Regions from separate parts of the Homo sapiens genome. Here regions 1 and 2 are each linked to region 3. Evidence: fine-mapped expression QTL. A gene starts in region 3. Each other region holds a variant in brackets. All regions are shown on one strand. Distances are from middle to middle. Region 1 has its middle 7.7 kb from the start of MRPL11. Region 2 overlaps SLC29A2 (solute carrier family 29 member 2). Region 3 holds the start of DPP3-DT (DPP3 divergent transcript).

Region 1 (2,752 bases), 49 kb before region 3:
GGCTGGAGTGCAGTGGCACGATCTCGGCTCACTACAGCCTCTGCCTCCCGGGTTCCAGCGATTCTCCTGCCTCAGCCTCCTGGGTAGCTGGGATTCCAGGCGCATGACACCACGCCTGGCTAATTTTTCTATTTTTAGTAGAGACGGGGTTTCACCATGTTGGCCAAGCTTCTCTCAATCTCTTGACCTCGTGATCTACCAGCTTCAGCCTCCTAAAGTGCTGGGATTACAGGCGTGAGCCACCATGCCCAGCCGCCCCACAACTTTAAAAGGTAAAAATTATGGAAGAAAAAAAGAAACCCCTCCCTGGTATTTGGTGGCAGTGACAGGAGATGGTAGAGTGTGTGTGGACAAGAAGGCACCCTGACACTCAGAACTGGAGAGCCAGGCCGTCGACCCATGCGGAGAAAGAAGTTGAGCGAGCCCATTGCGCCCCCTGCTGGACATAGAACCATCTGCTTCTGTTCCCTTCCCTGGCACGGTCCCTGTGGCTCAGAGCATCAACAATATTGCATCTTAGAATAGATGGGTAAACTGAGGCCCAGAGAGAAGAAAGGAATTGCCCAATGGCACTTCCAAAGTGGCTGCAGAAGCCAAATCTGACTCTCAAGCACCCTTGCCACCAACACCAGGTTGCTGCCCTGGGAGCAAAAAGGTATGAGAAAGGGCTGAAGTTTTGGAGTCACAAAGACTGAGGTCAAATATTGGCTCTGGCACTTCATTTTGCATGTGATAAACACTTATGACACCTACATGCGCCAAGGGCTTTGCTGGGTCCTGGGGAAAACTGAACAAGACAGACAAGGTCCCTGGACTCACAGACCTTACACTGAAGTTGTGGGGAGACGTAACAAAAAGTAAAATAACTCTTTAAAGGGAGCATGCAGTGCGTGCAGTGAAAGAAAGAACCTGTGTACTGTGGCCGAGCGGAACTGAGGAGGGGGTGCTAATTTAGAATGTGGCATCAGAAAGCTCTTCTAAGGTGACATTGAGCTAAGACCTAAAAGATAAGAAAGAAGAAGAGGCCGGGCACGGTGGCTTGTGCCTGTAATCCTAGCACTTTGGGAGACTGAAGCAGGTGGATAGCTTGAGTCCAGGAGTTTGAAACCAGCCTGGGCAACAAGGCAAAACCCCGTCTCTACAAAAAAAAAAAAAAAAAAAAAAAAAAAGCAAAAAGTTAGCCAGGTGTGGTG[G/C]TGTGCACCTGTAGTCCCAGCTACCCAAAAGGCTGAGGTGGGAAGATCACCTGAGCCCAGAAGGGCGAGGCTGCAGTGAGCCTTGATTGCACTTACACCACTGCACTCCAGCCTGGGTGACAAGAGTGAGACGTCGTCTCAAAAAAAAAAAAAAAAAAAAAAAAAAAAGTCCGGGCGCTGTGGCTCACCCCTGTAATCCCAGCACTTTGGACTTTGGGAGGCAGAAGCGGGCGGATCACGAGGTCAGGATATCAAGACCATCCTGGCTAACACGGTGAAACTCCGTCTCTACTAAAAATATAAAAAATTAGCCGGGCGTGGTGGCGGGCGCCTGTAGTCCCAGCTACTCGGGAGGCTGAGGCAGGAGAATCACTTGAACACAGGAGGCAGAGGTTGCAGTGAGCTGAGATTGTGCCACTGCACTCCAGCCTGGGTGACAGAATGAGAGAAAGAAAGAAAAGGAAAGAAGAAGGAAAGAAAGAAAAAGAAAGAAAGAAAAAAGAAAGAAAGAAAGAAAAGAGAGGAGAGAGAGAAAGAGAAAAGGAAGGAAGAAAGGAAGGAAGGAAGGAAAGAAGGAAAGAAGGAAGGAAAGAGGAAGAAGAGTGCTCCAGGTCAAAGAAAAGCAAAACTAAGGGTATCAAAATGGGAAAGGATTGACCTGTTTAAGGAATAGGAAAGAAGTCAGTGTGGCAAGGGGAAGAGTGGCTGGAGAGAAGGAAGATTACCCAGGGCCTTTGGACCAGGATAAGAAACTTAGATTTTATTTCATGTGCAATAGGAATCCTCTGGGGAAATTTAAGTGAGAGAACGACATATAATTCACATTTTTAAGCCATCCCACTGAAAGTTGTGTGGAGAATGGATTGAATGAGGTAGGAGGAGAAGCAGAGACCAGTTTAGGCTTCTGCAGTGATCCAGGCAAATAGGACGAGAACTCACACCCAAGTGCTTCCCTCAAGTCCAGGCGGAGGTGAGTGACTGGCTTTGGAATGCTTCAGAGGCAGAACTGACAGGATTTGCTAATGGATTTCAAATGGGGGTGAGGAAAAGAGAAGTCTCCTGTTTCTGACTTTAGTGAGTGAGTGAAGGGTTGTTGTTTACTTAGAAAAAACTGCCTGGTCACGGTGGCTCACGCCTGTAATCTCAGCACTTTGGGAGCCTGGGCGGATCACGAGGTCAGGAGTTCAAGACCAGCCTGGCCAATATGGTGAAACCCCATCTCTACTAAAATACAAAAATTAGCTAGGCGTGTTGGTGCGCACCTGTAGTCCCAGCTACTCTGGAGGCTGAGGCAGGAGAACTGCTTGAACCTGGGAGGTGGAGCTTGCAGTAAGCCGAGATTGTGCCATTGCACTCCAGCCTAGGTGACAGAGTGTCTCAAAAGAAAAAAAAATAGAGAAAAAGATGGAAAAATGGATAAGAAAGTTTTGTTTTTGTTTTCCTTTTTTTTTGAGATGGAATTTCGCTCTTGTTGCCCAGGCTGGAATGCAGTGGCATGATCTTGGCTCACTGCAACCTCCGCCTCCCGGGGTCAAGTGATTTTCCTGCCTCAGCCTCCT
Region 2 (2,752 bases), 120 kb before region 3:
TCTGTGGCTTCTCTGCTTCTGCTCCTCCTCCACCTCAGACTAGCAAACTCATATTCATCCCTCAGGGCCCAGCTGGGGAAATACCTCCTCTGGAATGGCTGCCCTGACTTCTCAGGTGGAATCAGTGGCTCCCTCGACATGCTTCTGCAGGGCCCTCACAAGACGTATCACAAGTTATATTTGGCTTCCTGTGGCCTTGGGAGCGGGGACTGTGTCTCCTTTGTTTCAAAGTCTCCAGACCAGGCAGGGCCTGGCTCGGGGCAGCTGTCTGTGAACAGTGCTCAAAGGAATGAATCCTTCCTTGGGGTCTGCCCTGTGGCTTATTTCAGCAACCAAGGTCATATCTTGCCTGTCTTCCTCCTTGATGCCAAAAAGCCCCTGGCTTCTGAGCAGGTACCCTGTGCTGGCTGAGCACCTAATATCTAATAGGTGCTCAGTGAATGTTCACAAAGGCAGGTGGGCAGAAAACCCTTGCTTTTCTCTGGGACGGGCAGGGTAGTATAGGTGTGTGGTGAAGCAGGCCTTTCCTCCATCCGTGTGTAGAATTGGTGGGGTCGCCAAAGCCCTGCCCACACTGACTGCCTCTCTAAGGCCAGATTTCCAAGGAGGAGCTATCCTGGGGAGGCAGAGGATGCTGGTGAGAGCCCAGGGGCTCATGGAGTGGGAGAGCAATAGTTGTCCATCCAACTAGGTGCTCTGCCCAGGAGCTCAGGATTCCTTGCAGGTCAGTACCCCCCAGCTATCATGTGGTCCAGAGGACCCAGCACAGAGATGCCCACCAATCCCTACCCCTCTCAGGGCCTCAGTCATCCCACCTGTCAAGGGGGTACAATCTTTCCGACCCCACCCAGTTCACTGAGGCCAATAGAGCCAACAGCACTTCGGAAATAAAGACTTGGTGAACGCATCATACAAATAAATGGGGTTATTAGACCCAAGAGCAGGGTCAGAAGGAGAAACAGCAAAAACGGGGAGTAAGTGCCCAGGCTCCTGCCCCAAACCCCTTGAGGAAAAGAGAAACAGGTGTTGGGCAGGAAGAACAGCACCAACAGGGAGGAGAGAGAGGGGATTGGGTCCCGGCTCTACCACGGACCAGTCACTTTCCCCAGGACTCAGTTTTGTCACCTGTATAATGGGGGAAGCACAATCCTTGCCTGACTCCTTCCAAGAGCCTCAATTAGGCTTCGGTGAGAGAGTGGGTATGGAAGAGCTTTGCAAACTGTAAAGTGCAGTACACACATGCAGGCTAGCTGTGGCCCTGGGGCCCAGGCCCAGCTGGGCTCTGCGGAGTGGGTACAGTAAGTGTTGGCAATGAAAACACTGCTTGAGGCTGAGCCTGGCCCTTTGAGCACCCTCAGGTCCTCCACATCTGTTCCTCCTCTCAGGTGCCCACAACTTCCCTGGCACCTTTTACCCTGGGTGGCTGAGGCCTGGGAAGATGAGGCGCTCCTGGCCTGGGCTGGCCCCGCCTCCCACTCTGAACCCTCTGGTCACCTCTGCTCCTGATGATGATGAACAAATGCAGACCTGGTGGTGGGGAGCAGCCGTGCCCTGCACCCTCTTTTCCCTAGTCATCACCCTTTCCATGAGGTCTTGTGCGAGTCACCCCCATTCCTGGGTGAGGGTTAGAATGACCGGTGGTGATTTCTTCCCC[A/G]CAGCACTCCAAGTGGATGAAGAGCAGCTCCTGCCCGCTGCTGGCAGCCTCAGGCCCAGGGGCCTCCACCCCGCAGAGGCCTGAGCCAAGCTCGCCATTCGCCCTGGGCTGGATCTCAGCTCCGGAAGGAGACGTCGAGAAGAGGCTGCCAAAGAGCCTGGAGGGGCCACTTCAGAGCAGCGCCTTGAAGAGGAAGGAGAGGGAGGCTCCACAGGAAAGTCCCAGGGCCAGGAAGAAGGTCATGAGGGCGCCGGCCACCTCCCTCTCGTGTGGCAGCACCTGCCTAGAACACCCGGGAACAGGAGCTCTTAGAAAATGCTGGGTCTAAATCTGGACCCAGCTCCACTGCCCTCTGCCCATCCAGTCTGGGCTCTGACCCAACCCCTCTGTCACCATAACTGGCCCCTTCTTTCCGGGCCTCAGTTTCCTGGTCTGTAAATGAGGCTGCTGGATAAGGATGTCTCTCAGGGCCTCTGAGTCTAACATGATGGGATTCCAGATTCCACAGCCTGCCCTTTCCACAGTGCTCTCAGCCTGTCTGCCCTGCCAGCTTCATTCTCTCTGGATTCTCCACTCCATTGCCCCTTGAGGAAATAGCCCATGACCTTGTTTTTGGTCAAAACCTTAGCTCTCCTTCAACTGAGAATTTTACAGTTAGATGGGCCCTGAGGGATGACAGTTCAACCCATTTTTTTTTACAGATGGGGAAACTGAGGCACATTGAGGCGGCCCCAGAACCAGTGCCTGGGCTACTTGGTTGGGCGGGTACCTCCCTAGCCCAGTTCTCTCCCCTGCAGTTAAGGCTTGGCCCAGTAGGGGGCGCCAGCAAGGCCTGCAGACAGCTAGGGTTGGGCTGGCCAGAAGCAGGATGGGCCGTCCCTCCATTGCAGGCGGTCCCTTCCCAAAGACTGAACCCACCTCCCTACTCCCAGCCCCCCACCCCACCCCATTGCCCCGGACCTGGGCGCCAGGCACATGGTGAGGGACACCAGGTAGCCATTAGAAACGGCAAAGAGCAGCATGAAGGTGATGAAGTAGGCATCCTGTGGGAAGAGGATGGGCAGCCGGGACCTCTGGGGCACGTGGCACAGCATGAAG
Region 3 (2,752 bases):
GCTGCCCCCTGCTGGCAGTGGGCAGCACTACCTCCCTTACCTGTGCACATTTCAACTTCACCTGTCAGCCAACTTTATACCCATTTTAAAGACAATGAAAACGGAGGCACAGGAAAGAAGAGGGGTGACTTTCCTAAGGACACCGACCAACTTGTTGAACTCCCCCATATAACAAGTAATCATCAAAGCTAACAGCTTGTAACACTGTTGTGTCAAGCAGGGCCTTGGGCACCTTTGTGGATGAGAAACTGGTGTCTATGGTAAGCAGAGGCTGTCTGGCCTAGACACGGGCGTAGCAAGGAGACCGTGCGGGATTTCAGTACCCAAACGCCCCTCACCCTGCGCAACTATAGGGAGCGGCACTGCAGTCAACACATCACAACTTACAATATCCCTTGGATTGGATTCAATTATTAGCCTGGTTTTCCGGTTCATAAAGCCAAGACTCCCAGACAACCTCACTCCACCCCCCAGTCTGACCCTGGGCCCTCACCACTACTCCCCATTTGGCCTAGGCCCTTCCGCATGCCCCACCCAGACCGTGGTCCCGTGAGTCCGTCCAGACCTGTAAAAGTGGACCGCGGGCCCGCCTCTGCTCTGGACTCCCTTTCGGGGCCGCAGGAGGCTTTCTCATCCATCAGGCATCTGGCAAGCACCAGGAAACTACCAGCCTGTTTGTGCTAAGGAAACTGAGGCTCGGGAATGTTTAGCGGCTCCTTCCAGGCCCGTGGCGGGTGGGTGGTGGTACAGTGAAGCAGTCGAGGCGTTTCTCCGCGCCCCTACACGGGTGGGACCACCTCAGCCCTGGCCCGATCCCACTCAACCGTAGCCCCGATTCCCGGCACCGAGAGCTTTGCAACTTCCAAGTCTCCACCCCCAGGTCCCGAGTCCCGAGAGGAAGGTGGAGCCACATTACTCCTATTGTGTAGGTTCCCACCTGCAAGAGTGCTGTCGGGTCCTCTGAGGTGAAACCCCAAAGGAAAGCGGGATCGGGACTGGGGGAGGGGGATTCCCAAGTCCCTGACACCCGCGCCGTCTCGGCCTGGGCTTGGTGACCTCGTCAGTCCCGTCTGCCGGGACTAGGCCGCGGCCAGGCCGGGCACAGCGGTACCCGGTCCGGCGCGTGTGCGGCCTGCTGACAAAAGGCCGAGCCCGCAGGGCCAATCCGCGCGCCACCCCGTAGCGCCTGGGGGCGGGAGCGGGCGAGCCGAGAAGCTCGTCTTGGCGCGTCTATTGGCTGGTACTGACGCCCATCCGGACCCCGAGGCCAGGCAGTTGGCCAAGGGGGGCGGGGTTCGCAGAGCCCCAATGAATGGGGGAGCCGGAAGCAGGAAGTGAGTTTGCGAACGGAGCAGCTGCTGCAGGTGAGGCGCGGCGCCTGGGCTTTTGGGGTCAAAGCGTGTCATCCCGGGGGACCAAGGCGAATCCATACTGAGCGCAAAATCGTTCCCTTTCTGCCCACTCTCCAGTACCCCCTCCAAATTCACCCCGCCCTCGAGGCCAAGGAGTGCTCCGGGGAGCAAAGAGTTAACAGCCCTTTCCGAACCTCGAGGCTGTGCTATTGGGGCGGGGCTTCTGGAGGCCGGGGCAGGGCGAGGAGGCTGGACACTCTGTCCCAGCCGGGACGGGGCGTGGCGGGGAGAATGCCCCGGGTTGGGGAATCCCCGGGTTCCAACGGGGCTGTCAGACCTTCAGTAAATTGTTGCCCTTTCCAAGCCTCAGTTTCCCTATCTGTAAAATGGGCTTTCTTCTGGTTGTGAACTTCTGTGGCTTCCCTGGTGGAGCACAGGGAGCGAGCAGGAGAATGGAGGGCCAAGGAAAAGGCATTTAGAGGGATGAGAATGGGACAGTTTCAAGCAAAATCATTTATTGCTGTGGATACTTTCCGTCCAGGGCGACTTCATCTGATTAGCGCACCCACCTGGTAATATTGGGGTTATTCTCTCTTTTATAGAGGAGGAAACGGAGGTACAGAAAAGTGAAGCAATGGACTTGACTTTTAGGAGTCTGGGGCCGAGTCCTGGCTAAAGGCTGAGCCTTCCAGCTGGCGGCCTGGCACTTTATCCTTGTGAGCACAGTGGAAAGTGTAAAGAATTCTGAACAAAGGCCAGGCGCGGTGGCTCACGCCTGTAATCCCAGCACTTTGGGAGGCCAAGGCAAGCAGATCGCTTGAGGCCAGGAGTTCGAGACCAGCCTGGACAAAATAGCGAGACCCCGTCTCTATCAAAAATACAAAAAATTAGCTGGGCATGGTGATGCACGCCTGTAGTCCCAACTACTTTGGAGGCTGAGGCAGGAGAATCGCTTGAACCCGGGAGGCGGAGGTTGCAGTGAGTCAAGATCATGCCACTGCACTCCAGCCTGGGCAACTAAGTGAGACTCCGTCTTAAAAAAATAATACTGAACAAGGAAGCAGGGAGGGGCCTGGGCTGGGAGCCTAGAGATGAGGATCTCTGCTGCTGATGTCTCCATTGTGGGATTAGGCAAGGCTCTTAGCCTCTCTGAACCTCAGTTTCCCCATCTGTAATACTAGGTAGTTAGAGTCAATCAATTTTTTTTTTTTTGAGGTGGAGTCTCACTCTGTTGCCCAGGCTGGAGTGCAATGGTGCGGTCTCAGCTCACTGCAGCCTCCACCTCCTGGGTTCAAGTGATTCTCCTGCCTCAGCCTTCCCAGTAGCTGAGATTACAGGTGCCTGGCACCAAGCCTGGCTAATTTTTGTATTTTTAGTAGAAAGGAGGTTTCACCATGTTG

The links. PIP is the estimated chance that this variant, and not a neighbour inherited with it, causes the effect.
Region 1: its variant is the best candidate, but not a certain one, in a credible set for the expression of DPP3-DT in thyroid (GTEx, PIP 0.68).
Region 2: its variant is the best candidate, but not a certain one, in a credible set for the expression of DPP3-DT in skeletal muscle (GTEx, PIP 0.88).

What each region holds. Positions count from the first base shown.
Region 1 is chr11:66,429,744-66,432,495 of GRCh38, forward strand. No RefSeq gene overlaps it. Among named protein-coding and RNA genes, the nearest start is that of MRPL11, 7.7 kb to the right of the region's middle. The variant G/C (reference allele first, on the strand shown) is at 1,194.
Region 2 is chr11:66,361,611-66,364,362 of GRCh38, forward strand. SLC29A2 (solute carrier family 29 member 2) reads right to left here. Exons shown (of 12, transcript NM_001532.3): 11 at 2,615-2,752; 12 at 911-1,937. The coding sequence ends at 1,826. B4GAT1-DT (B4GAT1 divergent transcript) reads left to right here. Exons shown (of 2, transcript NR_135761.1): 2 at 1,659-2,154. Among named protein-coding and RNA genes, the nearest start is that of SLC29A2, 8.8 kb to the right of the region's middle. The variant A/G (reference allele first, on the strand shown) is at 1,655.
Region 3 is chr11:66,479,102-66,481,853 of GRCh38, forward strand. It overlaps DPP3-DT (DPP3 divergent transcript), which reads right to left and starts at 1,148. Exons shown (of 4, transcript NR_120586.1): 1 at 938-1,148. It overlaps DPP3 (dipeptidyl peptidase 3), which reads left to right and starts at 1,333. Exons shown (of 18, transcript NM_130443.4): 1 at 1,333-1,364. RefSeq lists enhancers at 159-726, 1,303-1,472 and a silencer at 1,113-1,162.